4 linked regions of the Homo sapiens genome follow. The protein of the gene in region 2 interacts with the protein of the main gene of each other region in a biochemical or structural test. Each region holds a gene or a part of one and is shown on either strand. Other genes may lie near its edges. The genes, in order: WASL, CTTN, MAP4K5 and ARHGAP17.

Evidence for each region.
Region 1: the proteins of CTTN (region 2) and WASL interact in far-western blotting, tested with the Homo sapiens proteins (one study listed by BioGRID).
Region 3: the proteins of CTTN (region 2) and MAP4K5 form a complex in vitro, tested with the Homo sapiens proteins (one study listed by BioGRID).
Region 4: the proteins of CTTN (region 2) and ARHGAP17 form a complex in vitro, tested with the Homo sapiens proteins (one study listed by BioGRID).

The regions. Positions count from the first base shown.
Region 1 is NC_000007.14:123,703,653-123,711,141, forward strand, and holds part of WASL (actin nucleation-promoting factor WASL), read right to left. Parts: intron 5,572-7,489; coding exon 5,437-5,571; intron 3,175-5,436; coding exon 3,088-3,174; intron 2,722-3,087; coding exon 2,625-2,721; intron 1,006-2,624; coding exon 982-1,005; intron 1-981. UniProt on the Homo sapiens protein: Regulates actin polymerization by stimulating the actin-nucleating activity of the Arp2/3 complex. Involved in various processes, such as mitosis and cytokinesis, via its role in the regulation of actin polymerization.
Region 2 is NC_000011.10:70,393,259-70,401,699, reverse strand, and holds the start of CTTN (src substrate cortactin), read right to left. Parts: upstream 3,172-8,441; 5' UTR 3,086-3,171; intron 1-3,085.
Region 3 is NC_000014.9:50,522,401-50,529,889, forward strand, and holds part of MAP4K5 (mitogen-activated protein kinase kinase kinase kinase 5), read right to left. Parts: intron 1-7,489. UniProt on the Homo sapiens protein: May play a role in the response to environmental stress. Appears to act upstream of the JUN N-terminal pathway.
Region 4 is NC_000016.10:24,921,200-24,928,688, forward strand, and holds part of ARHGAP17 (rho GTPase-activating protein 17), read right to left. Parts: intron 6,534-7,489; coding exon of another isoform or gene 6,526-6,533; exon of another isoform or gene 6,485-6,525; intron 1-6,484. UniProt on the Homo sapiens protein: Rho GTPase-activating protein involved in the maintenance of tight junction by regulating the activity of CDC42, thereby playing a central role in apical polarity of epithelial cells.

The sequences.
Region 1 (7,489 bases), on a different chromosome or scaffold from region 2:
TTTCTGTATCAGAAAAAGAAATTTAAGGACAAAATCAAAAGGCAACGTATCTGTTTAAAAGAAACCCCAACAATCACCAATAGCTGTCATATATTAAGAACTCTGTATTATGTAAGTTTTCCTTGAATAATCATTCTAGGTTCTGATAAGAGGATTTGAGATATGCTTTTAAAAAGCAGCCATTTTCTCTATCATAACAAAGTGTGCTGGAGAATGATTCTTTACCTTCATAGAGTCAGGAACCTCATTTAAATACGATGAAAGCCATGGATCCTCTCTCTCCAGAGAAAAGAACATATTTAGCACACAATTTCAGGGAGTTTATGAAGTCTAGAGTAAGAATTTCTACCCCTGAGACCTTATCTTTTACATCCTGGTATTCTGCTTTTACTCTCTGGTATTCAATGTTTTTTAAAAAATGAATTCATAATACTTCAAGTGGTCATTATCAAATTAAAGAGCATTATACAGAGCTAAATTAGTTCTAAATACACCACAACAGTAGGTGTTCATTTTGAAAGGGGCTTCATATAACACATAAGCAATGTGAAATAATATTTTGAAATAAGAATGAAAGGTAAATCTTAAAGTAGGACATTAACAAATATTCTAGACAAAATGTACTGCCTCTAGGAAAAATGTTAAGGTCCGATTGTATACTTAGTCAACTGTGAATCCAGAATTAAAATATAATAAGTATTAGTGATCTTCACCCTATGTATTCTTTCTTCATGTTAGAAAAATATCAAAGAATATTGTTTCCTAAGTCTCATCTGTCAATCATTAATTAAAAATAGGAACACAATAAACTGTATAATTTGATCATAGATACTAAACATTACTTACTAATGTATGGTACATGTTTCCACAAGGATTAACATGTAAAAGATACTAAATATTACTAATGTATGGTACATGTTTCCACAAGGATTAAACTGTCATCTAAAATCTTAAAAGATTAATAATTGTCAAAAAGCTTACCATTTGGGGGATCTCGTCTTTTCTCTGTTAGAAAATAAATTAGAAGAATATTATTAAATATATGTAAGACAACATCAACATAAAAAAATTAATTCACTAAACTGTCTTATTCCTAAATTGACATACGTGTGACTAAGGAAGATTTTTCAGAAGACCCGACATTTAAGTAGAGATCTAAATAAAATAAGTAAGGGAACAATACATTCAAAGGCCCCAAGGAGGGTGCAACATGAAAGAACATCATGAAGACTGGACTACAGTGAGCAAATGGCACAGTGAAAGGAGACAAGAAGGAAAGTCAGGGACTAGATCATGTAGGGTTCCACAGGCCATGGTTAAGGACTATAGATTTTATGTGTATATGATAGGAAGCTCTTACAGAATTTTAAATAGAGAAAGTGATATAACCTAATCTACAATTCTAAAAGTTTACTCTGGCTACTGTATAGAAAAGAGATAGTAAAAAGGATTGAGTAGCAGCAGGAAGACCAGTCAGAGAGCTAGTGTGGCAGCCCAGCTGACAGATCATGGTGGCCTGGATTAGGATGGTAGCAGCAGAAATGGTAAGAAATAGTCAGACAGGACATGTTTTTGAAGGCAGAGTCAATAGGACTCTGATAGGATTTATGAGGGACCATGGTGAGCCTGAGGGATAAGATGGAACAAATGCCTTTTACTGAAACAAGGAAGATTAGTAGAAGAATAGGAACAGATCTGAGTGGGGCTAAGGTTCAGGATACAGGACATGGATCAAATATTCTGCTCAGACCGTGTTAAGTCTAAAGGCTATTCTGCCACTTGAGTAGACAGAGTCTGAAGGTCAGGGAAGATGTGTCAGTACTGAAGAAAAAACTTTGAGAGTCATTGGCATACAGTTTTTGGAACTATAGGACTGGATGAAAGCACATGTTCTTTCTTCTGAAACTCATCTGCTTAAGATGATTTTGGAGAGGTTCCCCTTTCCTAGTCACCCTTCTCCACTTTACAAGAGAAACACCTGGTTCACTGTTGTCAAGTAATAGTTCTACTCCAATTAACTTAAAGCTTTATACTATCCTGCATTGTTCTATAATTGTTTTATATGTGTTAGAGTTGTTTCACACACTAAACTAAGTTCCTTATGGGTTTTATAGTATATAGCATTAGGAACAAAATAGAAAGACAAGGCAATGTTTACAGATCTTGTTAGCAACTCTGCTTATTTGCTTCTAAGCTTACCTAAAGTCTTTGTTTACAAAGTATAAAATACTTTTAAAACTTTACAAAAAATGCTATCACAAATGCAAAATTAAAAGTCAATATATATGAAATTTTATCAACAAAAAAGGTTATTGTATTGGGCCCTTCGGTAAATCTAAAAAAAATAGTTCTCAACAAAAATATTATTTATTTTAAGGTAAGGACCACCAAATTTTTTTGTAAATAGTAAATATTTCAGATAATAATTTTGGCTTTGAGGACCATATATCACTGTCATCACTATTTAACTGTGTTGTGACAAAAAATAGCCAAAGACAACATGTAAACCAATGAATACAGTTAAGTTTCAGTAAACTTTTATTTACAAAAAACAGGAAATGGACCACACTTGCCCCATGAGCATTAGTTTGCTGGCCTGATTTAAGTAATTAAAAAAGGGTTACCAGATTTCCTTTGTCGACGGCCCAAAAGGTCTGTAACTGCTTTTCGAAATTTTTTTGCTTCTTCTTCATTGGCAAAATTAAGAGCAACTTGACAAGTCTGAAATATTTTCATCACAAAGGGGAAACAACAGAATGTATGAATTTAGCTTTATATCATAAAAACAATGAGGAAAAGAAGTATATTTCTAAAGAACGAAAGGTTAATTTTACTAGCAGATAAGACATTATTTTATGATCTGAATAACTTAACACAAAAGCATGAAGAAGTTCAAGTAAAAGATTACTATTAGAGAAGTTACCTATCACAGCAGACACATATACTAATTTGAATATTTCATCTTCAGCAAAAAAATAAAATAGCAAATTGAATTTGATCTTTCAATAAGGTTCTATAAATAATTTGGATTAGAAAAGGCAAGCAATGAAAAAAGTAAAGATGGCAATAAAGAAAAATATGACTTACATCTCCAGCAAAGGTATGAAAATATCCTCTAGGACTATTATATACAAAGTTATTGTATAGCTCTTGTTCCCACAATAGTTTCCCATCCTAGAAAAAAGTTAAAAATTAAAATAAGAACTACCAAAACATAATCTCTAGGAATAAAACAAAGAAGATGACTCATATTAAGAAAACTGTTTATATTAAAAATAACTTTTAATGCACACATGTAACATATTTATAATATATAAATAGTGTCACATAATCTAATCAGTAATTTCTTAAAACTGAAAACACTGGATAACGTATCTTTCATAAAACCTACATATCAAGTCAGTTTAATTCAGCTAAGATATAATCTCACTAGCCAACCATTTCCAAATTCAGCTACTTGGTCAAATACATAATAACCAGAATAATTACTAGGTCATCAATGTTACATAGAAGGAATAGGATACTTTTGTACATGAACTGATTACCAAAGCACAGTTCCACCAGCAATATTTAGACAATGTACTATCAAACACTGCAGGAATACTTTATGTTCTTTTCCTCAATTTTATAGATGTGGGAGGGTCAAATATACCTTCCTTGTACTGCTAATTAACCATCTTCAAATTCTTAACTTTTGCAGAGTACCTTTCTAATTATATACTAGTATAAGTAGTATTAATCATGATGCAGAAAGAGACTGATAATTAAAATGTATCAAGGTTAAACTATGGATAAGAGTGCCATGATGGCTGCCATATCTATTGCCATAGTATAAAAAATATGTTTAATCTTAATACCAAAGGTGACGAATTATGAGTGTCCAGCAATTGGAAATAAGTGGTTAGAGAAAGATAGTCATTGCCCTATTCAGAAATGCAAGGTTCTACCTAGACCACAATTTAAAAATATGTAAAATACACTGTTCACACATTATAACCACTGCAATGGAATCCCTTTCTTCTTAGTGGAGTAGTAAGTGTATGCCATTTCTAAATAGTGCTTCTCAATGGTTATGAGAAATATGTCAAAGCACTTGGGGGTTTCTTTCAAACTACGTATGTGTTCCCCACCCCCCAGAATCACTGCCATAGTTAGCCACTGCTAGTGATTACTAGTAAGCCACTGCTAGTGACAGAAGCATGTCATATCTCTCAGCTGTCTTGGAAGCAGACATTAAGATGCACTAATTTAGCCCGGGACTGGTGGCTCAGGCCTGTAATCCCAGCACTTTGGGAGCCTGAGGCAGGAGGATCACTTGAGTCCAGGAGTTTGAATCCAGGCTGGGCAAAACAGCAGAACCCATCTCTATAAGAAAATACAAAAATTAGCCAGGTGTGGTGGCATGCACCTGTAGTCACAGCTACTCAGAAGGCTGAGGTGGGAAGATTGCTTGGGCCAAGGAGATCAAGGTTGCAGTAAGCTGTGCACTCCAGGCTGGGTGACAGAGCAAGAGCAAGACCCTGTCTCAAAACAACAACAACAACAACAAAAGAAGCACTAATTTACCAAATACCATAACTGAGATCTCATTTAATCTCAGTGAAATACCTCATAACAAACCAAGATGGTTATCTGATTTTACAAATAAAGCTGAGACCAGAGGTGTAAAAATCTCTTCACTGTTATCTATCAGGTCATATTAGCGCCCAAGAGTTTAAAGGCAGTTTTAGTTTTTTGTAATTAAAATCTCATTGCACTTATTGCCACATATAAATATTAATCATGGAGGCTTACTTACAGAAAGGTTTTTTAAAAAAATAATGGAGACTTCATCTTAGCAAAATATTTTTATGACAACTGTAAGAAATGAATACCTAACAAGGTATTCAATCTATAACAATGTGATTTATGATTGGAAGGGAGGGATATAAAGCTATGAAAATCTGAATATATCTATCATGAGAAACAATATAAGGAAAAATGAGTAGCAAACAGATTTTTATAGATATTGAAATGTTTTAAACCTGGGCTAAATAACAGTACATACTGAGCTAAAATATTATTTTGTTGTTACCTGAACAGACTATCTACGCTATTCTATAATGAACCAGGTGGAATAAAAGAGTTTCATTAAAAAAATACAGAGTGTAAAGAAAGCCCAAGAACCAACAGGCATAATTTAAAAAAAAAAAAAGCCTTAATGCGTGGTAGCAGGAGAAAGATAAAATAGGAAACTATTCACATTCTGGCTTCAGACATGTTCCCATTTGGTCATGATTTCCGTATGCAATATCTAAAAACCAAGCTTCACTCTTCTAATATTAGTTTATGTATAAATTTAAATATCACATATAGGATAAACAAATCTAAACTAAATTATAATTGATATAGAAAACCTAATCACCTAGTTTAAAGTGAAAGCAAAACAAAACTCACCTTAATGTCAAATATTCTTAAAAAATAAGATCTCTGTGGATTGTCCTTAACAAGACAAGCAACACCACTGCACTTCTTTGACCACATACAGTTCCGATCTGCTGCATATAACTGCACCACTGCTGAAGACATAGTCTGCAAAATATAAAATTTATAACCATTAGGTTCAAAATAATATGTAGATGATCATAGCCCCTGCTGACAGCTTGACCGCAACCACCCAGCTAAGCTGCTCCTAAATTCCTGATTCACAGAAACAAGGAAATAATAAACATGTATTGTTATTTTAAGCCACTAGTTTCTGAAGTAATTTCTTATGTAGTAATAAATAACTAATACAATAATCACATAACAATAATTACTGAAAACATTTATTGATGCTTAAAATGTGTTAGGAAATGTGTTAATCACTTTTAAATATAGCCTCATTTGTTATTACTATGATAACTTCATTTTTTACTTGAGAAACCCGACACTAAAGGGGTTAATTTGCCCAATACCACACAGCTAAATGGCAGAGCTGAAATTCCAAATCCAGGCAATTTGTGACTTCAAATCTAGCATTCTTACTCCCCCTATTACACTGTTTCCCAATAAAGTGAACACTTAAGCAATGAAGTAGTAGCATTAGTAATGGCTGACTTGTATAAAGCAGTTAAGCACTTATCTAGATAAGGATTGAGACAAACTTGAAAGCAGTATTACCACCCTGGAAGGCAGATTATAGTATCTCCTTTCTAAAGTGAGTTTAAGATTGTAAGTGATTTGCACAAGTGGCCACGCAGTTTTAATGCTATACTGAGGATATGAAAAAGATTTGAGTGACTATTGTCTCAATTTTACCAAGGATAGTCCCTAAATAGAACCCTTTCAGATGTATAGGAGGGAAGCTAACTCGTTACATGCAATGGACACTTCAGGGCATTAGGATTTTCCAGTACACCATGTTGCCCCCTTCCTCAAGACTATATCATGAAAAGGTGTAAACTAATTTTATTCTAAATTAAGTTTACTTTATAACCTAGAATGTAACTATTCAACCTTAAGTTTCTATGAAAGTGATACACACTTACACTGATAAAGCACTTACAAATCCTCTGAAAGCCATAATTATGTTTTCTGATAAAGTAATTTCACTTCTAAACTAGAAATTAAGAAAATCATTTAGAATATAATACTTCATATTTTAATATAAATATAAAAATAAAATATTTCATATAAATATATATTTTTTTAAAGAGGAAGAACTGAAATAACCTAAAATAGGAGCTGATTAAGTAATTATGGTACCTTAGTTCAACGGAATTTGGGCTCTGTAATAAAAAATAGACTACATTAAGATTTGAAGATATGCTGTTTTAGGTTTACTGAACTATGCCTGAGGGGTGCCCTTTTTTGGTAAGAGGAATTTCAAAGAACAATTATATGCACAAATCTTTTATAATTAGATACTAAATTCAGAAATGTAAGATCAGTATACTGTTAGGATCAAAAGTCCATAAAGACTTGCTCAGATAACAATGTTCAATGTTATGTTTTTAACATTACAGACCAAACTCAACCTTGAACTTCACATACAGTACTGAGTAGGACACAAAGGAACAGAAAAATTTCTGCAAGAGTCAATAAAAATTATGATAACTTAAAAACAAAAAATGTGTATCCTGGGACACTGGGTTTCAAAGAGGAGACTGAAGAATGTGGGACACTTTTTGGCCTGCTCAAAACACACTTGTGTTTGCAAGTGCACAATCTCAGGATGATAGTGCCACAGGCATCCTGCTGCCAGCACTGAAAACTTCAGAAAAATGCGTCTTGCATACACTATCTAAAGGTACCAAATACCAGGCTGAAGAATGCAAAAATCAAACAAGCAATTTGTTAGTTCTAAGGAGAATTCGCATAAAGTCTTTTTTAGTATGGTGCTGTCAAAATACATTCATTTCTAAAAAGATAGCAATTAGGAAACTAGATGTACCAAAATGAAGATCTAAAAATCTCCCTACTTCGCTTTTTACCAGAAATCAAGAAGTAACAGCTCACACACACACAC
Region 2 (8,441 bases):
ACCACACCAAGCTGATTTTTCTCTCTCTTTTTTTTTTTGTTTTTTTTTGTTTGAGACGAAGTCTCACTCTGTTGCCCAGGCTGGAGTGCAATGGTGTGATCTCAGCTCACCGCAACCTCTGCCTCCTGGGTTCAAGCGATTCTCCTGCCTCACCCTCCTGAGTAGCTGGGACTACAGGCACCTGTCACTACACCCAGCTAATTTTTCTTTTTCTTTTTTCTTTTGAGATGGAGTCTCAGTCTTTTGCCCAGGCTGGAGTGCAATAGTGTGATCTCGGCTCACTGCAACCTCCACTTCGCAGGTTCAAGCGATTCTGGTGCCTCAGCCTCCTGAGTGGCTGGGACTACAGGCATATACCACCACGCCCGGCTAATTTTTTGTATTTTTTTTTTTAGTAGAGACGGTGTTTCACTGTGTTAGCCAGGATGGTGTCAATCTCCTGACCTCGTGATCTGCCCACCTCAGCCTCCCAAAGTGCTGGGATTACAGGTGTGAGCCACCATACCCGGCCAATTTTTCTATTTTTAACAGAGATGGGGTTTCCCCATGTTGCCTAGGCTGATCTCGAAACTCCTGGGCTCAAGCAATCCACCTGCCCTTAGCCTCCCAAAGTGCTGAGATTACAGGTGTGAGCCACCGAGCCTGGCAGAAGAATGTTTTAAATGACAGGACAGAACCATCCGTCCACCATCAGCTTTCCATTAGCCTCAGCATCTATGGCAGAGCAGGAGGAGAAAGGAAACAGACACTTGCGTAGCCAAAATCACCATCACAGGCACACTCCCTACACCACACTTACTCAAGGGAAACCCCGCCCCCAACATTTACTCCGTTTACTCAAAGCAGTGCGTGAGCAGATGGGGTGGGCCTGGGCCACAGTGAAAGCCAAGCCTGCTCCTGGAGCACAGTCCCCTGCTCTTGGCTGGCCCAGGCCATGGGAATACTGCAACACAAGGCAGCAACCAGCGCTCACAGCAATTCACACTCTCAGGACACCTTTTCTGAGCACCTACTGCGTGGCACAGACTGAAGATCTGAATTGCCGATTATGTGTGCTGTCATTTTAAAAGTGTTTTAAAAACAAGTCCATCAAAATGCTACAATTAAAAGTCAGCTTTAGCTGGGCCTGCAGTCCCAGCTACTTGGGAGGCTGAGGTGGGAGGATCGCTTAAGGCCAGCAGTTCAAGGTTGCAGTGTGCTAGATGGCACCTGTGAAGAGCCTCTGCACTCCAGCCTGGGTGACAGGGTCTCGCTCTGTCACCCAGGCTGGAGTACAGTGGTGCGATCGAGCTCAATGCAGCCTCCAACTCCTGGGCTTGAGATCCTCTGCCTCAGCGCCCCAAGTAGCTAGGACAACAGGTGCAAGCCAACATGCCCAGCGAATTTCTTTTTTTGTAGACACAAGGTCTCCCTGTGTTGCCCAGGCTAGTCTGGAACTCCTGGCCTCAAACGATCCTCTCACCTTGACCTCCCAAAGTGCAGGGATTACAGGTGTGAGCCACCGCACCCCTGCCCCAGGTCAAAAGAAATTTCTTTTCAGTAAGATATAGCAGAAGGTTAGCTTCTAGTTCTAGGGGACCTAATATCAAAACAACCCTGCCTCCCCAACTTTTTATTGAGTCCCACTTAAAAGACTCTTCCTTGTTCCTTGAGTATCTGGCGAATACTTCTCTAACCAGAGGAGAAACAGGACTGACTCAGTGCTCTGGAGCCAGTGACTCACCCACACGGTCAAACACGTGAATGGAGACAGGGGCAGGCGGCCAGCCCCTCCTGCGCCACGGCCTTGGGCCCGGCCGGGCTTGAGGGCTGGATCATGCCTGAAGGACCTAGTGGGTGAAGTCCCCCCGACAGAGCCTGCGCAGCCAAGTCAACACTGAGCCCAAAGGGAGCGCATGGGATTCCAGGGAGCGCTCACCGGATGCCTCCGGAGCTTCCTTCAGCAGAAAATGAATTCCTCCCCAAGGGGCCCCAAACGTCCACAGATTCCAGCGGGAGGAAGCCCTGTCCCTTCTCACCCAAGGCCTTCCAGCTTCAGGGATCAGGCATCCCTTAGACTATCCAGGTGATGGAAACGTAACAGAAAGCCCCAAAGCACCGTTCTGGTGATTTTAAACACACCCCGAAGGAGGGACGGTTCCAAATTTAGAGCCTCACGACTAGCTGCAGCCGCGCCTCGCTGCCTCCACTGACCTGATTGCAAAACCTCCGCTCAGGTGCAGGCCGGGCGGATCCCCAGCTGCTCCGCCACGTCCCACAGCGAGCCCCTCAAAGTCGCGCACCCCAACCGCCTTGACCCCGCGGACCCCATCCCTTTTCCCTGCGCCTGGATCCCTTCCCCTGGAGCCCCAATCCCCTCCCCTCGGACCCTATACCTTTCCTCCGAGCCCCGACCCCTTCCCCTCGAACCCCAATTCCCTTCCCTCGGACCCCATCCCAGTAGCTCTGCGCCTGGACCCCTTCCCGTCAGACCCCAATCTCCTCCCCTCGGACCTCATCCCTTTCCCTCTGCACCCAGACACCTCCCTCTCAGACCCCTCGCCCTTTCCTTGAGACCCCCCACACCCACCTTCCTTGGCCCCTCGAACCCCGGCCCCCTCCGCTCAGACCCCCGAACCCCACAGGCCCAGCCCCTCTCCCTCGGGCCCTAATACCCTCCCCCTCGGAGCCCATCCCCCTCTCCTATTCCCTCGGACCCAAGACCCCTCCCAGCCTGGCCCCTCTCCTGCCCTGGAGCCCCCCGGCGCCCAGGGACCCTCCCCTCAGAGCTGATACCCCAATTTGGCCCCTTTCTAACCTTCCTCCGCGGACCCCAGCCCCAAGCCCTCCGTGCCCCCTTGCCCCCTGCCCGGCCTCCTTGGGCCCAGACCCGTCCTCGTGGCCCTCGCGGACCCCCGGCCCTCGCCCTGCCCCGCCCCAGGCCGGGAAAGCCTCGCCACTCTGCCCCGGCCCCCGAAACCGCAAGCGGAAGAGCGGTGAGACCGCTGCGGCCGCCGCTTCCTTCCCCTTTCGCGGCCAGGCGACGCCACAGGAGGGAAGAAGCAGAGCCCGGCCTGCACCCCGGGCGGACGCCGCGCTCGCTCACCGCCGCCTGGGGTCGGTCCGGCCCGGGTCGGCCCTGGATTCCGCCGCGCCAGCCGCTCCCAGGCACCAGGCTCTACTTCCGGTTCCGAGGGCGGGGGCGGGGCCGCATCCGGGTCCCCGCGCGACCCCGCCCCCTGCCCCGCCTCCTCCCGCGTCTTGGCCCGCAAGAGTCCCGGGGGTCCGCCCGCAGCTGGCTAAGCGCTAGCCCGGCCTGTGGCGAGTCTGCAGAGCTCGCCCGGAAGTAGCGTTGCGCGCGCAGAGGATGGGCGCTGAGCAGCACACAGCCCGCGGCGGGGTCTCAGGATCCGCGGCGCTGCCCGGGGCCGGGGGAAGGAAGCCAGCCGAGGAGACGCACGTGCCCTGAGTCCGGGAGCGGGGAGCCTCTTCATCTCTCCATCCTCCCTCCGCGCGCGCCCTCAGCCGTCCTCGTCCGCTCACCATGCACCTCCCCTCCAAGAAAGGGCCACATGCGTGCCAGGGACGCGAGCCCCGGCCACAGGGACATAGCAGCCTAGAAGGTGAGTCAAGCGTTAAACCACATGGGTACTCACCTGGGAAATGAGATAAATGCCAAGAAGTGAGAGTTTCATAACATCGTATTGGGGAGACGGTAGGACCTGAACCCCTGGGAGACCAGAGGTTTCTTTGGGCGATTCACATGTTAGCCAAGATGTGAAGGCCCTATAAGAGTAAACAAGGTAAGGAGGGAAGAATTTTCCAGGCAGGCCAACAGCAGGTTCCAACAGCAGGGCCAACAGAGGTCCCAAGGCAGGAACGGTCTTGCAGCAGGGGAACTGGAGGAGGCTCAGCTCAGCATGGTAGAGGGCTAGTGGTGCAGCGGAGCTGTGGTGTGAGAGGGGCCAGGTCATGCAGAGGCCGATAGAGCACAGCGAAGACCTCGGTCTTTATTCTGGGAGACACGGGAAGTCCTCGGAGGAAGTTAAGCTGATAAGAGACATCATGAAGTTTGGGCCAGGCGCAGTGGCCCACGCCTGTAATCATAACACTTTGGGAGGCTGACATGGGAGGATCGCCTAAGGCCAGGAGTTCGAGACCAGCCTGGTCAGCATAGTGAGACCCTCGCCCCCGCCCGCCATCGCTAAATAAATAAATAAGACATAATGAAGTTTGAATTGTAATGAGATCACTCTGGCTGCTGTGTGGAAGATGGATGGGAGAAGGGCCAGGTAGAGCCTAATGTAGCCAATTCGGGCAGACCGCTGGTGGCAGGTAAGATGGGGAGAAGTGGATAGATGCAAGAGGCATTTAGAAAGCTAAACTGTCAGATGTGAGGATGAATTGGAAGTGCGGGTGGCGGAAGGAAATGTCAGGTGTTGACCATTTTTTTAAAGGTAAAATCATGACCTTCATACACATATAAAATGAACACGTCAAATATTTTATTTAACTCGATAATGAATACATCATAAGTTGTTACAAATTGTTTAAAGAATTTGGCCAGATGCAGTGCCTCGCGCCTGTAATCCCAACACTTTGGGAGGCCAAGGCAGGAGGATTGCTGGAGGTCAGGAATTTGAGACCAGCCTGGGCAGCATGGCAAGACCCTGTCTCTACCAAAAAAAAAAAATTTTTTTTAAGAAAAAAATTAGCCAGGCATGGTGACGTTTACCTGTGGTCCCAGCTATTCTGGAGGCTGAGGCAAAAGGACCGCTCCGGCACGGGCAACAGAAACCCTGTGTCAAAAAAAAAAAAAACGGAAGACGAATGCTGAAATGAATTTGCAAAAACTGCTCTATCTCTAGTGCAAAGGTCAATTGCATTTAACTGGACACAGCTAATTTGCATTTTCTGTGCACAAGGATTGTTGGCCAGGCTTGTAATACCAGCACTTTGAGCGGCAAGGCCAGAGGATTGCTTGAGCCCAGGAGTTCAAGACCAGCCTGGGCAATATAGACCCCATCTCTGAAAAAAAAAATTTTTTTTTTTACATTGCTGACTGTTTTTTTTTGTTTGTTTGTTTAATCTTTAGAGACAGGGGCTGGAGTGCAGTGGTGCAATCAAGGCTCACTGCAGCCTCGATCTCCTGGGCTCAAGTGATCCTCCCACCTCAGCCTCCCAAGTAGCTGTAGCTGGAACTACAGGCACGTGCCACCACACTCAGCTAATTTTTTTTTTTTTGAGATGGAGTTCCCCTCTTGTTGCCCAGGCTGGAGTGCAATGGCGCCATCTCAGCTCACTGCAACCTCTGCCTCTCGGGTTCAAGCAATTCTCCTGCCTCAGCCTCCCGAGTAGCTGGGATTACAGGCGTGCGTCACTTTGCCTGGCTAATTTTGTATTTTCAGTAGAGACAGGGTTTCTCCATGTTGGTCAGGCTGGTCTCGAACTCCCGACCTCAGGTGATCCTCCCGCCTCGGCCTCCCAAAGTGCTGGGATTACAGGCGTGAGCCACCATGCCCGGCCTCTAATTTTTTAATATTTTTGTAGATACTGGGTCCTGCTGTGTTGCTAATGCTGGTCTCGAACTCCTGTGCTCAAGTGACCCTCCTGCACTGGGATTACATGTGTGAGCCACCACATTGCCAGGCCACATTGCTGCCTGTTTTTTAAAGGTTAATTTCTGCCTCTACAGAGGTATGAAATCATCTAGTCAAAAAAGCAGGCATAGCCGGTGGTGTCCATCTCAGAGGGAGCCCTGTGACTGTATTGATCCAGCACAAACCCCTCCTCTCAAGTCCCTCACTGTGTCACACCTTTTGCCATAAGAGGTCATAGTCATAGGTGCTGAGGATTAGGCTGTGGACATATCTTTGGGCGCCCACGGAAATGTTCTTATTTCTATTAAAATTGGAAAAATGAACTTTTAGGTTGAAGAAAATGTATTTTATTCAAGAAAACATGTAAAGAAAATATAGCAGCCAGGCGCGGTGGCTCATGCCTGTAATCCCAGCACTTTGGGAGGCCAAGGCAGGTGGATCACCTGAGGTCAGGAGTTCAAGACCAGCCTGGCCAACATGGTGAAACCCCGTCTCTAAAATTAAAGTACAAAAATTAGCTGGGCTAATTTTACAGAGAAGGAAAGACAAAGCTCACTGCAGACTTTTCAGCAGGAGGGCAGCGTTCGTGGCTTAGAAAGACCAGTCTGCTGCCGGTGAAGAGCAGGGTGCTTCAGAGTGGCTCCCAGAGAGAAAGGGGCAGCACACTCTTCCACATGCCCATTGTGCTCCCCAGGAGAATGTGTGGCAGAGACTGAGGCTGGCCACAGGAATTACACATACAGTGTAAAATTTGCAAAGCAAGAAGTATAGCTGTGCTCAAAAATAGGTCGAAGCCGGGCGCCGTGGCTCATGCCTATAATCCCGGCACTTTGGGAGGCCAAGGCAGACGGATTTCTTGAGGTTAGGAATTTGAGACCAGCCTGGCCAGCATGGTGAAGCCCCATCTCTACTAAAATTCAAAAAATAAAAACAAAAACAAAAACAAAACTGGTGGCTGGGCGTGGTTGCTCACGCCTGTAATCCCAGCACTTTGGGAGGCCGATGCAGGTGGATCACTTGAGGTCAGGAGTCCGAGACTATCCTGACCAACCTGGTGAAACCCCGTCTCTAATAAAAATACAAAAATAAGCCAGGCATGGTGGCAGGCGCCTGTAATCCCAGCTACTTGGGAGGCTGAGGCAGGATAATCGCTCAAACCCGGGAGGTGAAGGTTGCAGTGAGCTGAGATCGCGCCATTGCACTCCAGCCTGGGAGACACAGCGGGACTCTATCAAAAAAACAAAACAAAACAAAACAAAAGTGATATCTCTGTGAGCCAGAAATGAAGAGAAATGCAAAGTGCTGAGTGGGCCTGCAACTGCAAAGCTGCTGGGCCTGGGTCACCCACGCTTGTAAAAGAAGCACGCAGCCAGGGGCGCACCAGTGGTCCCAGCTACTTGGGGAGGCCGAGGTGGGAGGAATCACTTGAGCCCAGGAGTGCAAGACCAGCTGGAGCAACATGGTGTGAACCTGTCTCAAAAAAATAAAAATAAAGAAAAATTTTAAAAACCCATGCAGCCAAAGAGGGATGTCCAGACAGCCTTATGTCCAGGACCTGAGCAAACCAGTCCCTGACTTAGAGTGCAGATGGGACCTGGGGCATTTGCACCACCACGCAGGGCTGTAGGACTCAATACAACACGTGTGACGGAGATGTAGCTGTCCACCCAGCGCCCCCACCCTCCTCGGTACTAAGTGGACATGTGGGTGTCCAGCTCTACTACATTTCCCAGCTTCCCTTGGAGTTGGGAGCTGCCATGTGGCCAGGTTCTCGCCCATGGAACATGAGGGGAGGTGACATGCATGGCTTCTGAGCCTGGACCATCATTCCTCCCCGGGGCTGCCTCCTACCGTGGACCAGCTTCCTAGGCTGCTGCAACACATTATGACAGACTCAGTGCCTCAAAACAATGCAAATATATGCTCTTCAGCTCTGGAAGCCAGAGTCTGAAATCAGTTTCATGGGCTAAAGTCAAGGTGTCAGTGGGGCTTGTTCCTTTTGGAGACTCTAGGGGAGGAACCATCTGTGGCCTTTCTAGCTTCTTGCATCCCTCAGACCCATGCATTCATCTTCACACCTGTTTTCTCTCTGTACGGATATGTCTCTTTGCCTCCCTATTACAAGAACATTTGGGATCCCATTTCAGACCCACCCAGAATATCCTCCCATCTCAAGATCCTTAATGTCATGACATCTGCTAACTCCTTTTTGCCATGTAAAGCAACATCACATGTTCTGACTATTAGGATGCAGACATATTTGGAGGCCATTATTCAGCCTACTACAGGTGACAGGTACAACCTTGGAAGCCCTGTTTTGAGGATGGCAGAGCCCACCAGCCTGCATCCCTCCAAGACTGCGTGGAACAGATCTTCCTTACTATCCCTTTCTCCTCCTCTGCCTGACCTGGACATACACCCTGCCCTGTTACGTGAAAGCAAAAGAAAATCCTGTTGTGTTTAAGATATTGCGTTTGGAGTCCATTTGTTCCAGATGTTTAGCCCACCCTAATACAGAGAGGTTGAGGCAACTGCAGAACAGGGAGACAGACAGCGTCACACACAGTGAGGAAGAGAGAAAATGAAACATTTCCTAATTAAAATGAACCTAGAATGTAAGTTCCAAAGGGATTGTAAAAATGAATACTAAATAAGAAAGCCAAAGGCCAGGCACAGTGACTCATGCCTATAATCCAGCACCTTGGGAGGCCGAGGCAGGTGGATTGCTTGAGCTCAGGAGTTCAAGACCAGCCTGGGCAACATAGTGAAGACCCTGTGTCTACAAAACTTTAAAAAAATTAGCTGGGTGTGGTGGCCTGTGCCTACAGTCCCAGCTACTTGGAAGACTGAGGCAAGAGGATC
Region 3 (7,489 bases), on a different chromosome or scaffold from region 2:
CATCATTAGAACCATATTTTCTCTTTAGGCAGTCACAAAATAAGCCTACCTCTGAACAGTAAGAAAAATAAATAATAAGATTTTACCCAGATGACTTTTAAAATAGTAAATATCCACAACAGTAGCACATCATCCCAATAAAACATGTTTTATTTTCGCAGTGACCTTATACAACATTTAACATAACATTTATTTAATAAGAAATATAATTTAAAGTTTTTGAAGGACAATCCTTCCTCTCTTATTTTCTACTGTTAAGCTATTTTTCCAAGTTATTCACTCTCTCACTCAAATATGAAAACCAAGAGTCTCTCATAATGTCAGACACAGGACACAAAAAGGACAGTATATTCATATAGTTCAGCTGTGTTACTATCAAAAAATAAGAAAGTAGGTGATGTTTTGATATCAAATGTCAGAGAAATAACATCACATACATCTATTTTTTATTACCTTCAGATTTTTAGGCATTGGACTAGACTCTTAATATTTAAAGATCAAAGTATACTGGTGGAGAGAAGACATAAGAAACAGCTACATTTTCTTTGCTTACAAATTCATGCTTAAAAAAATAACATAAGACTTGGTAACCTACAACCAACTGCTGAACTTAATTAAAAATCACAATGGGCTGGGCGCAGTGGCTCACACCTGTAATCCCAGCACTTTGGGAGGCTGAGGCGGGTGGATCACCTGAGGTCGGGAGTTCGAGACCAGCCTGACCAACATGGAGACATCCCATCTCTACTAAAAATACAAAATTAGCCGGGCGTGGTGGCCCATGCCTGTAATCCCAGCTACTAGGGAGGCTGAGGCAGGAGAATCGCTTGAACCTGGGAGGTGGAGGTTGCGGTGAGCTGAGATCACACCATTGCACTCCAGCCTGGGCAACAAGAGCGAAACTCTGTCTCAAAAAAAAAAATCATAAATAAATAAAAATCACAATGACCTGTGGTCCTGCACCAGTCAATAAGGCATGGTGATGGCCATGCTTGTGTCTTAGATAATATGCCTGCCCCTAAGCTTAGAATTCAGCTACAGACACAGGTTCCGGTGACTCAATAAGAAAGAGATTTAAGACTTCCTTTGATTACCCAGTTATCCACTTGGTTAACTCCCTAATGCCCTTCAAGTCTGTTCAAATCTAACCTTTTCAATGAGGCCTACCCTGACCATCCTTATATAATTCCCCAACCTGCCTTCTTCACTCCATTCAGGCATTCCTGATCCTCCTTAACCATTCAACCTTTTCTTCTTTCTATACCTTTAATCTCCTTGTAACGTATTATACAATGTGTTTATTATGTTTGTTGTCTCTCTCCCCCCACTAAAATTTGAGTTCCATGAGGGGAGGAATCTTTGTCCGCTTTGTTCACTAGATGTATCACAAGGCACCACAACAGTGTCTGCCCCATAGGAGGCCTTCTATAAGTATTTGTTGAATGTTAAATACTCCTTTGCATCCTGTCCTCCCAGTTCTCCATCCCAGCTCCCATTCATTAACATGCCTCACTCTAACCATGCTCGCAGTGGAACAACTAGGACTGGAAATAAACAAACAAGGCTCCAGATCAGAAAGGGAGGGAGGTTTTTACATTTATCCCCTACTCTAGTCCCTAAAAATCCATCCTATGTTTTTTCCTTTTATCTGCTTTCTGAATTCTCAATTCCTCCCAAATTCTTTGTCTTGATTTCCTTCTCTGTAGAATTCCATCTCTAAACTCAGCAATCGTCTTAGACACTTGGGTGATACGACAAACTTAAAGAATGGTAACTGAATGCTGTAATCACTCAGTCTTGATGAAAGTAAAACCCTGAAACAAGAAGAAACATTTGTGTGCCTCATTTCTCTTTCCTGTCATAGCTAAGCTGCTTCAGAGAGCAGGCTACATTCCCTCTACTTCCTCACTTACCAATCATACCTCAACTCTACTCTTAATGAACCCTTCCAACTCCTTGCTTACATGACCACTATGCTGCTTACTCCTTCAAGGCATATTTATTGACCACATACTATATACTAGGCAATATACTAGTACAGGTGTTTCAACAGTAAACATAAGATCTCTGTTCTCATGCAGTTTTAGTCTACCAGGAAGACAAGCAAAAATGAGAAGTGATAAATGATGAGTATCATGATAAAAAATGTACATGGAGCTTTGAAAACATACAGCTGCTAGGTGTGACCTACTCTAAGGGACAGAAAAGCCCCCCCACCGAGAAATGTAATGTTTAAACAGAAACCCAAAGAGTAGGCGATAAGATGGAAGAGAAAGAGTGTTCTAAAGGAATACCTGCAAAAATCTGAAAGACAGAGAGTAGAGTGCATATAAAGAACTGAAAGTTCAGTATGGATACGGTATTGGGATAAGCAGGGCCTTAACAGGAATATTATTCTAAGACTTTATTCTACAGACAAAGGAAATAAAGGAGAAATGACACAAAACTTCAGATTTATATTTTTTGGAGAATGAATTCATCTTCCTCATTGCAGTTAGAGCAAACAGGAACAAGAATGGAGGCAGCTGATGATAGAGATCATCTCTTGAAACTTTTCGTTCCTATGAAAAGAACTTCCTCATACCGCTTTGTTTCTTCTCAGACACCTTCAATATATTATTTTTCTCTGCCACCCCTCTAAGGCTACAGCCTTTCCTCAGCTCTCCTACAAACTCTCCTGGGTGACCTCACCTATATTTCACAGGTACCACCCCATAAAGTGATGATGACTCCCAAACCTGTATCCCCAGTCCAGAACTCTCAAGGCCAGAGGTGCATTTCCTACCACCTACCAGACACATTCACCTATGCAATGCCTTATGTTCAAAACCAAACACAAAATCCAGACTCCACATATTTGGTATTTCCTAACTCTGTTGATAGCATCAATGTAGTCACTCAAGCCAGAAATTCTAAATGCCATCAATTACCCTTCTCCTCCTGCCCCTCACCGATTACCAGGTGTTTTTGATCATCTTCTAAATATGACTCAAATCCATCCCTTCCTTTCATCTTCTATACCAGGGCCTAAATTTAGTCTTGCATAAACTCTCATCCGGATTATTCGGGAACTGGTCTCTACATTTCTAGCCACTTTGTAAAATCCTTACACTACACTGTAAGATATTTCCTCCTAAAAAGTGTTTCTCTAGTCCGGGCACAGTGTACTCACACCCTAAAATCCCAGCACTTTGGGAGGCAGAGGTGGATGGATTGCTTGAGCCTCCGAGTTCAAGACCAGCCTGGGCAACATGGCGAAACCCCACCTTTACAAAAAAATAAAATAAAATACAGAAATTAACTGGGCATGGCAGTGTGTGCCAGTCCCAGCTACTCAGGAGGCTGAAGTGGGAGGATCACTTGAGCCTGGGAGGCGGAGGGTCTAGTGAGCTGAGATCATGCCACTACACTGCAGCCTAAGTGAAAAAGTAAGACCCTGTCTCAAAAAAATAAAAATAAATAATTGAAAAGGTCCAAATTCTTTGATATGACACATGGAGTCCATTAGCTGGTGTTTCCTGCCAGAAAATAGCCTCTATTCTCCATCTATAAAATAATAAAAATAAATAATTGAAATGACATCTCTGCCAGATGTCACACTGAACCTGGAATGAATACAGATGCAGATCTCTCAAAACTCATCACGGCTTCTCAAGCCTCCAGGTGTTTGCACATACTATACCCAAAGCCTGGAATATCTTTTCCTATCTTCTCTACCTAGAAACCACTGGTCTTCTTTTAAAAATCCAGTTAATGTTCCTTCCTCTGTTAATCTTCCTTGGTTCACACTCCTCTCTCTCCCTTCCTTCATCCCCAATAAAGGCAGAGTTTGGCATTTCTTCCACTTCTCCTCTATGGCACATAATTTTCTACCAAATTATGACTGCTTACATGTCTGCTTTCTTTTTTCTTTTTTGAGATGGAGTTTTGCTTTTGTTGCCCAGGCTGGAGTGAAGTGGCGCAATCTCAGCTCACTGCAACCTCCGACCCCCGGGTTCAACCAATTCTCTTGCCTCTCCCAAGTAGCTGGGATTATAGGCACCTGCCACCATGCCCGGCTAATTTTTGTATTTTTAATAGAGATGGGGTTTTGCCATGTTGGCCAGGCTGGTCTCAAACTGCTGACCTCAGGTGATCCACCAGCCTTGGCCTCCCAAAGTGCTAGGATTACAGGCGTGAGCCACTGCGCCTGGCCACGTCTGTTTTCTTGACTAAACCATATGTTCCTTATTGACAGTGTACTTCATCTCATGTTTGCATCCCCATATCCTAACACATTGTCAGCACTCAACAAATACTTCTTTAATGAATGAATGCTTCTAGAAGTGTGATGATACATTAAGCTTTGTCTCTATAAAATGGGATCTTGGGATATGTTTCAAAGTGCCTAAAGCCATTCCAGAATGGTGACTCTTGGCTGGAGGAAAAGAAAGTAAAGGCATACATAAAGGAGATTCCCCATAGCAGACCTAATTCATCTAGCATCCAGAGGAACCCACGTTAGTGATAAGACTACATGACAAAGACTTCTACGCAAATTATAACATCATTTATAATTGCAAAAAAAAAAGTTTAAAAACTAGAAATAACAAATATGCAACTTAGAATGATTAACTAAATGAAGGCTCATTCAACGGATCCTTTAAAAATAGTACTTTTGACTGGGTGTGGTGGCTCACCCTGTAATTCCAGCACTTTGGGAGGCCAAGGTGGGCAGATCACGAGGTCAGGAGATTGAGACCATCCTAGTCAACCTGGTGAAACCCCGTCTCTACTAGAAATACAAAAATTAGCTGAGTGTGGTGGCACATGCCTGTAATCCCAGCTACTCAGGAGGCTGAGGCAGGAGAATCACCTGAACCAGGGAGTCAGGAGGTTGCAGTAAGCTGAGATTGCGCCACCGCACTCCAGCCTGGCGACACTGCAAGACTCCGTCTCAAAAAAAAAAGTACTTTTGTATGATTACACCACTGCACTCTAGCCTGGGCAAAAGAGCAAGACCCTGTCATCCAAAAAAAAAAAAAAATGTACTTTTGTAGAATATTTAACGACTAGGGAAAATGCTGGTCATTTCAATCAAACAGAAAAAAGACCTGTATCATATTCCCAATCATAAATTAAATATAAAAGCCATTTTGGAAATACTGATTTAAAAACATTTAGGAAATAAGCCTGAAATAAACTGTATTAAATTATTAGCAGTACCTATCTCTGAGTAATTTTCTACAACTAATTTGTTCAACAAATATTTATTGAGCATTTGTTTGTTACATTACAAAGATGTGCAAGAGACATCTGTTTCTGTCCCCTGGGAACTAAACATGTTATTCTTCTATAATCAATCAGATAAAGCAATAAAGCTTAGAAAAAAATTCATAGGATTGCCCAGTCTAAATTTATATTCTATGAAAGGTAAAATAATAATAATAATAATAATAAATAAATAAATAAAAATAAAAATAAAAAGCCAGATTGCCAGAACTTCTCTGAAATCTAGGCTGGAAGCAATTTTGATACAAATATTTGGATAAGGGCTGCCCAAATGGCTTGTACTACTGATTATGAACTGTATCATGATGCTGTAGTTGTTATAGATCCTTGTGGTCAGAGGTAGTTGAGAATCTAAATCTCCAGATTTATCCTTCCTGCTGGCAGATCTACATTTTTACAGTAATTACAAATAAAAGCTGCTCAGTTGACATTTAATCCTTCATCCACCATCCACCAAATTCCTTTTCTCTTCTGTGTTTCTTTTCCCTCTACCATTTCCTGCTCTTGCCCTCAATGATTCACTCCATTTATCTAAAAGAATCTTTATGTTCCTCCTCTTCTTTCAACCAAAGAACAGCCAATATAAGATTGAACTCTCCCTCTTGGGGATTCTCAGGAAAGATGGAAGCTTCAGAGGGGATCTGTGGTATTGATGAACATAAAAGTAAATTACGAAGAATCTCAAAGCCAGAGTCCTTTAAAGCTTCTGCTTCAAAAGATACCTAAGGTGTAAAAAAAAAAAAAAAAAAAAAGGCAGGGAAAAATCCAGGCTTGGTGGCTCACACCTATTAATCCCAGCCCTTTGGGAGACTGAGGCAGAAGCATCACATGGGGTCAAGAATTTGAGACTAGCTTGGGCAACACAGGAAGACCCTGTCTTTACATTAAAAAAAAAAAAAATTAGCCAGGCATGTTGCCACACACACTTGTAGTCCCAGCTACTGAGGAGGCTGAGGAGAGAGAATCCCTTAAGCCCAGGAGTTCAAGGCTGCAGTGAGCTGATCGTGCCACTGGACTCCAGCCTAAAGCACAAGACCATCTCTCAAAAACACAGGGGGATATTATCTGAGTAGAACAGTGGCTAATTTACCTTCATTATTCTTTACTGCAGGTATTTCACTAGTTTATATCCTACATTGAAAATACTTCTAAAACGTCCTAGGATGTTCAGCTCATCAGAAACACAGTGATAAATAGCAAAATTACTCTAATTGCCCAGAGCTTAAAAAATTCAGCACTACAGTTTCAGGTTATGTGTTTTTAGGCATACTAAGGAGTAAATTTAAACTGACAAAATTCTATAGGACTTAGATCACTGATAGTGGATATACTATAAAATAGTTTTTCAGAAATATTTCCCCAGAGAACTCAAATAGATGAAATTTGTAATAAAAATACACACGCAGGGTATCATTAGACAGCATCACAGGGCCGGATGTGGTGGCTCATGCCTGTAATTTCAATACTTTGGGAGGCCGAGGCAGGCAGATCATTTAAGCTCAGGAGTTCGAGACCAGACTGGGAAACATGGCAAGACCTCCTCTCTACTAAAAAAAAATACAAAAATTAGCCAGACATGGTGGCACACACCTGTAGTGCCAGCTACTTGGGGGGCTGAGGTGGGAGGATCACTTCAGCCCGGGAGGTTGAGGCTTCAATGAACCAAGATCACACCACTGCCCTCTAGCCTGGGGGACAGAGCGACATCCTGTATCCAAACAAACAGACAAACAGAAGGCATTACAGGAATACATAGAGTATTAAATGCTAACTTAGTGCTATGATGTCAAAAGCATGTGCTCAGAGAACTAAGTGACAGAGTCTGATATTCATTCATTCATTCATTCATCAAATTTTTAGGAAGTACTTACTCTGTGGCAGGCATAATCAGAGACAGAGCAGTGAAGAGATTAAAATCCCTGCCATCATGGAGTATTTTAGTGAATCAAGATAGATAATAAACAAGAAAAAAATAAGTAAAACATTATGTTGGTGATAAGTACAAAGCAAAAAATAGAGTAGGAAAAAAAGATCGGGAGGATGTGAAAAAAAGGAGGAAGGGAGCAAGCCATATAGTGGGGGGCGGTGGTGAAGGGGAGACATTACGAAGAGAGGAAATAGCAAGAACAAGGACCCAAAGATGGGGAGATGCTTATCATGTTTAAGGAGCAGCAAGCAGGCCAGTGTGACTAGAGCAGAATGACTAAGGAGAGTGGTA
Region 4 (7,489 bases), on a different chromosome or scaffold from region 2:
CAAGTGGGCAGACCAAGGGGATCCTAATTAAGACAAAAGGGCTGGCTTCTCTCGTAGATGTGGGTTCTGGCAAATTATGAGAGCCTCATTAGGTATTTTAGGGCTGGTGTAAGAGAGAAGAGAGATGTTTTGTAGTTTTGCTTTGCTGCGTTAGAGGTAGCCATGGCAGGCAGCAGTGAGGGAGTGGGAGGAGGAGGTGGTTTGTGGGGGCGTTTCACAGTTAGGCTTGAGAGCTGCTTTCCCCTACTTGCTGTGGTGCAAAATGACATCCTGTCTGTCCTTGACGGGAGCTAGTTTTGACTATATTTCTGTTCGACCTGCTCCCGTCTACGCAGGCACAGCTTGAAAACGCTGGTGCACTTTGGGGAAGCTCACTGCTTGGAGACTTGTTCCAGCTCCTACCCCTTCCACCTTCCTGTCCCTACAGTTCTGAGCTGTGAGATCTATTTACTCCCTGGGACACCCTTTTTCTCACAGTTACTCCTGGGTTGTCCCTCAAGGTTTCCTATGCACCACAACTCAGAGAAATTTCTAGATTTATGGAGGTGCCAAAGTGTCAAAGAGTTCAGGTGCTGAATGTCATTTCAGACAATTCAGGTCTTGTGATAACTATAAAACCAATGACACTGTGCAGAACTGCACCAGCCTATGGTGCAGCCAAAGGTGGTCTGTATGCACAGAATAGGGGCTGTCTTGGATTTGTCCTAAGCAGAACAGAAGTCAACGAAGGCAGGGACTGTGTCTGTCTTGTTCACAGTGTATCCTCAGTACCTAAAACAGTGACCGGCAAATAGCAGATGTTCAAGAAATTTTGTAGCTGCACACTTGGATGGTTGGATGGATGCATGAAGAGTCATCTAGAGCAACCATCTTTCCAATCCTCCATTCTTACATCCTCAGGCAAAGAAGTAGCTGTGACTTGAAGACGACGTATAAGAAAATCACTGCAAATGCAATCCTTTCCCCATTATCTTGGCCCCCAAAAACAGAAGGGGCTACCAGCCCGTGTCTCTTCTCAGCCCAGAGTTTACCAGAAACTATGGAACCGACATGACTTGGCGGGGAATGCATGATGCAAAGGCACTGTGTATACGGATGAGATTTCTACTTGTTAATATCTGTATTCACATGCAAGCTAACGCCTATCAGCCACCAAGCCCCTCCACAGCTGCTCTCTTTTTCTTATACATCACATATACATAATTTTTAGATTTGTGCCTCTCTGAATTTTTCTATTTATGATCCACACACATTATTAATTCAAGGGGAAAAAATGTGTTTTGGGGCATAAAGGAAATCCCTTACTCTGCCGCCCACCTGCCCCATCTGGTTTCCCCAGCCCCTCTCTATTCCTACATGAATCAGTCCCTGAAAGAAACAATGACTTTGTTTACACACAAAAAGTAGAAAGAATTACGGCAACCTGTACAGAACCAGTTTTCAGAAAGAGACTTCATCACAGTAGCTAACATTAAAAAAAAAAATTTTTTTTTTGAGATGGGGTCTTGCTCTTTTGCCCAGGCTGGAGTGCAGTCGTGCAATCTCAGCTCACTGCAGCCTCCACCTCCTGGGCTCAACTGATCCTCCCACCTCAGCCTCCCGAGTAGCTAGGACTACAAGCATACGCCACCATGCCTGGCTAATTTTTTTTATTTTTGGTAGAGACAAGGTTTCACCATGTTGACTGGGCTGGTCTTGAACTCCTGGCCTCAAGCAATCCTCCCACCTCGGCTCCCCAAAGTGCTGGGATTACCAGCATGAGCCACCACACCCAGCCTCAGTAGCTGACATTACTATAGAGCACTTACTTACACCAGAGACTGTACTATACACCCACACTTTATTACATCGTCTCACTGAACCCCCACTAACTAATCCTAAGGCAGCAGAAATAAGAAAGGGAGACTCAGAGGCTCTATTCCTTGCCCAAGGTGACACAGCCAGTGTGGACCAAAGAGGATCAAAGCCAGATTGGTTGCACTCTGGCTCTTCGCATTACATTTTCCCTCCTCCCCAGAGGAGTCTGTAAATCCCTGGGTGAGGGCCTTCAAAGACATTATCCAAGATCATTGTTTCAGTCTTACAAACACTCTGGTTTGTTGTAAAAAGGAGAAAATGGTTATTTCAGAAAGACACCTGTAAGAACCTGGTTTGTCTGAAACACCTCTAAATCTTTCTGGCTATGAACTCGTATATTAACTGCACTCCAAGAAGGGCTGGTTTCTGAGCATATGCTTGGAGCTAAGTTCATACAAAAGATATTGTATTTAAAAAAACAAAATAGGCTGGGCGTGGTGGGATGATGGTGTGAGCCCAGAAGTTCGAGACCAGCCCAGGCAACATGAGACTCCGTCTCTATAAGAAAAACACAAAAATTAGCCGGGTGTGGTGGTGCATGCCTCTAGTTCCACCTTCCAGCTACTTGGGAGATTCGCTTGAGCCCAGGAGGTCAAGGCTGCAGTGGACTGGAATCACACCGCTGCACTCTAGCCTGGGCAACAGAGCAAGACCCTGTCTCTCTTTTTTTTAAAAAAAAAAAAAAAAAAAAAGAGAGAAACAGAGGATGACCTCCAGTAACCAGCCTCAGCCCAAAGGCAGAACTTGATACAGTTCATCTCAGATTTGGGGCTCTGACAAATGTAACCCAGGTTCCTTCCTGCACTGAGTATCTCATCCAGGAAACAGAAGTGGGTATTTAAGAGCTAGAAGTGGAATGTTATCACTGAGGGTAAGGTTCTAGAAGATTTACTTATTACTTCAACAATTTTGAATATGTGCTTTCTCGGTTGTGAACTCACCCTTCAAGAAGTCCAAGGTGATTCTGATAGCCACTTTGACAAGTAACAGATCCAAATATGCCCTTGAAAGTAAGTGGTGCAGGCACAACTGCAGGGCGAATAAACTCCCTCCCCCTCTCCACCACCCATCCCTCTTCTCAGACCTAGAGTCTCAGGGAATGCCTTCCTTCACCAGTGAACGGTTTGAGTCTTAAACACTCTGGTTGATTGTTGTAAAAAAGAGATAAAGGTTATTTTAGAAAGACACTTGTAAGAACCTGGTTTTCTTTAAACACCTCTAAACGTCTCTGGCTATGAATTTATATATTATTTGCATTCCAAGAAGGGCTGGTCTTTGAGCATACTGCTTGGAGCTAAGTTTATATGACAAGTATTATATTTCAAAATTAAAAAAAAGCAAAAAATCAGACAAAAAAGAAACCTTTTATTGGAGGTCTCTTTTCTGTTTTTTTTTTTTTTAAATAAAATATCTACTGTATGAACTTAGTTCCAAGCAATATCCTCAAAGACCAGCCCTTGGAAGGCAGAGAATATATAAATTCACAACCAAAGAGGTTTAGGGTGCTTTTAGAAAGCAGGTTCTGGCTGGGTGTGGTAGCTCATGCCTGTAATCCCAGCACTTTGGGAGGCCGAGGCAGGCAGATCACCTGAGGTCAGGAGTTCAAGACCAGCCTGGCCAACATGGTGAAACCCCGTCTATACTAAAAATACAAAAATTAGCCGAGCACGGTAGTGAGTGCCTGTAATCCCAGCTACTCAGGAGGCTGAGGCAGGAGAATCGCTTGAACCTGGGAGGTGGAGGTCACAGTGAGCTGAGATCGCACCACTGCATTCCATTCTGAGCAACGGGGTAAGACTCAGTCTCAAAAATAAAAAAAAATAAAAAAAAAAGCAGGTTCTAACAGGTGTCTTTCTAAAATAACCTTTTTCTCCTTTTTACAATGTAATACCTGTCATATAAACTTAGCTCTAACCAGAGTGTTTAAGACCCAAACCATTATTTCCTCAGATAATGTCTTCACTTTCAGGATCCTCACCCAAGGATATACACAACTCTTTTGGGAAAGAGGGAAAATGTTAGGGTGATTAAGAATGATGGGGCCAGGTGCGGTGGCTCATGCCTGTAATCCTAGCACTTTGGGAGGCAGAAGTGAGTGGATCACTTGAAGTCATGAGTTGGAGACCAGCCTGGCCAATATGGCAAAACCCTGTCTCTACTAAAAATACAAAAATCAGCCAGGTGTTGCCACACCTGCCTATAATCCCAGCTACTTGGGAGGCTGAGGCAAGAGAACTGCTTAAACCAGGAAGGCAGGGGTTGCCGTGTGCCAAGATTGCACCACTGCACTCCAGCCTGGGTGACAGAGCAAGACTCTGTCTCAAAAAATACACAAAATAAATAAACAGAAGAATGACAGTCCAACCAATCTGGCTTTGATCCTCTTTGGTTGAAGTAGAATTGTGTAATTTTATCAGGAACTGATGATTTCTCGTCAGTTTTCTAGGGCTATTAGAGACTCTGAGTCAACTATTCAGGAGTGATTCTGTTCAAGTCTCACTGGATGTTATCTTGACACAATTCTGATTATCTACTTATTAAAAATAAACTGCAAGTAGAAACAGAAGCCACTTAAATATCCAACTAGGAGTAATAATACATCTGGTTGATGAAACATTATGTAGTCACTGAAAAACATGGTTCTAAAAATTACATTATCACATGAGAACGAGCATATGATGTAAAGTGAAATAAAAGGATCCAAATCTGTCTATGTCAAATAATTATGCTCATGTACCTCCTTGCCTTCTAGAAAAACTAAAAGAAAAAAAGGGGCGGGTGTGGTGGCTCACGCCTGTAATCCCAGCACTTTGGGAGGCCGAGACGGGCAGATCACAAGGTCAGCAGATCGAGACCATCTTGGCTAACATGGTGAAACCCTGTCTCTACTAAAAATACAAAAAATTAGCTGGGCGTGGTGGTGGGCGCCTGTAGTCCCAGCTACTCGGGAGGCTGAGGCAGAAGAATGGTGTGAACCCAGGAGGCGGAGCTTGCAGTGAGCCAAGATCGTGCCACTGCACTCCAGCCTGGGGAACAGAGTGAGACTCCGTCTGAAAAAAAAAAAAGAAAAGAAAAGAAAAGAGAAGAGAAGAGAAGAGAAGAGGAGAAAAGAAAAAAAGTAGAATATAAATGGCAGACTTTTTCAATTGTATAGCTACAGTTGATTTCTTATTATTTCCATTTCTCAAGAGTTTTAATATCCATGCTTATTTTTATTTATTTGAGACAGAGTCTCACTCTGTCACCCAGGCTGGAGTGTAGTGGCACGATCTCAGCTCACTGCGACCTCCACCTCCTGGGTTCAAGCAGTTCTCCTGCCTTGGCCTCCCAAGTAGCTGGGATTACAGGCACCCACCACGACACCCAGCTAACTTTTTGTATTTTCAGTAGAGATGGGGTTTCCCCATGTTGGCCAGGCTGGTCTTGAACTCCTGACCTCAAGTGATCCACCCGCCTCAGCCTCCCAAAGTGCTGGGATTACAGGCGTGAGCCACCGTGCCCCAGCTCATGCTTATTTTTAAAAAGGCATTACTTACATGACATAAGAAGGGTGAGAGTTTAAAAAGCAAACACTATGAAATTAGCCAGCAAAGTGTCCAGGCTTATGGCTACTTTGTGAGTGATTTGGTCTATCTGTGGTACAGTGGACTAACGCCTCACAGACAGTCTCAGGCTCACTAAATTATATGAATGTATATGTTATCTCCTTCTGCAGAGCATTGTCTTTTTAACCCATGAAAGAAGTGAGATTCAAAAAACCAAGTGGTGCATCAGAATCAAAATATGGATACCTGGGTTCCACCCCCAGTCTCCTGTGTTTGGGTCCTAGAAGGCCGGGTCCGGGCGTATGAGTTTTTAAAACCCTGATATGTGAATCTAACATAGAAATCTGATTAAAACTATTTTCTTCTAGATAAAAATGATAAATAGCAGGCCAGGCACAATGGCTCACACCTATAATCCCAGCACTTTGGGAGGCTGAGGAGGCCGGATCACCTAAGGTCAGGAGTTCGAGACCAGCCTGGCCAACATGGTGAAGCCCCGTCTCTACTAAAAATAAAAAAAATAGCCAGATGTGGTGGCAGGCGCCTATAATCCCAGGTACTCAGGAGGCTGAGGCAGGAGAATTGCTTGAACCTGGGAGGCGGAGCTTGCAGTGAGCCGAGATTGCGCGTATATTAAGAACTGTAACTGGCTAACAGAATAATCTTGGACTTTCTCTTATTTCATCTTCAACAATTTAGACAGATGTCACCACTTTACAGATCAGCCAGGTTGTGCCTAGCCTATGTTATACCAAGAGCTGAAATTCTAACTCAGTCAGGTCTGACTCCATAATGTGTGTTCTTCCTACTATACCTCAAGCTTGCCTGATATGGAAAAGAATGGAAATTAAAGAAGTAACAAGGACAGCCCTGTGACCACCTGTTCCACATCTGGGTACACACTTAGTATTCCGAATCATTGCAGCAAGCATCAACAAAGCCAGTCCTCCTTCAGTGCATGCACTATTAGTAGGGATGCAAGCAGGCAGGGTTAGGGTGGCCAGTTAGTAACAGGCATGAGTGCACAAATATGATCATCAAGTAGCAAAAATGCATTGGCCAATCAGGTGCCTTTTCCTTACCATTAAATATTCCAATCTCAGTTCTTACTGAATATGGCAGGTCATACATCTAAATTATTTAATAAAATGTTTAAATTAGAATACTCTTTGCTAAAATCTATTACTTCAAAAATAGCAAGATGTAAACTCTTTTACATGGGAATTAAAACTCTTACTGCTCTCTAGAGTCACAATTAACAGGAGACTCAAAATGATGCCAGAATGCCGGCATCCTCCAGTGCTGGTGCTGAGCTGTGAGAAGTTGGCTGCCAAACCTGCTTGGCAGCAATAATCTCCCCCCAAGAGTTTATCTTAATCCCATTAGCCTTAACCCAACTCTTTAAAACTCTAACTTAATCCAATTCTAAAGGAATAACCTGTTTTCAGGAATTTGTCCATCTAAAGTTTTCTAAGTGAAAACATTATGTCATAATAAAGGACCATCCTGTCCAAGGAAGTTATATATTTTTTCCTCCTTGAAAAACCCAATGGCTACATCCAAGAATGGTTAATAGCAGTATGATCAATACTAGCAGATTAAAAAATTCTAAATGTTGGCCTTCTGTGTACTTTCAGTGGGAGGCCAGGGGATTTTAAGATAGTACAGGTTAATTCTGTAATACAAAGATAACTCTGGTAACCTGGAATTTCTTGAGTTAGGAGAATTCATAGCATAGACCGGTTTTTAAATAGCTAGTATCTTCGGGAAACACATTTTTAATGTAAAATTTCACTTATCTAATAATTACAGGCAGTATATTACAGTGTTGTAGCAGATCAGTAAACTAAACTTGTGGAATAAATACACCCCGGGTAACAATGGTATTAAAAAATAGGCATAATTCTGGTTTGCAATCTTTCATTTAAATAAAAGGAAATATCTGATAATAACATTTTGGTGTGTCACAAGCATGAAATTGTGGAATCGCACCCGGGCCTCCTCCCTGTTTTGAAGGCTACACTCTGGTTTTCCACTTACGGTTCCTACAGAAAGTCTTACTCAGACCTAAGCTGTGAGCACTCTGG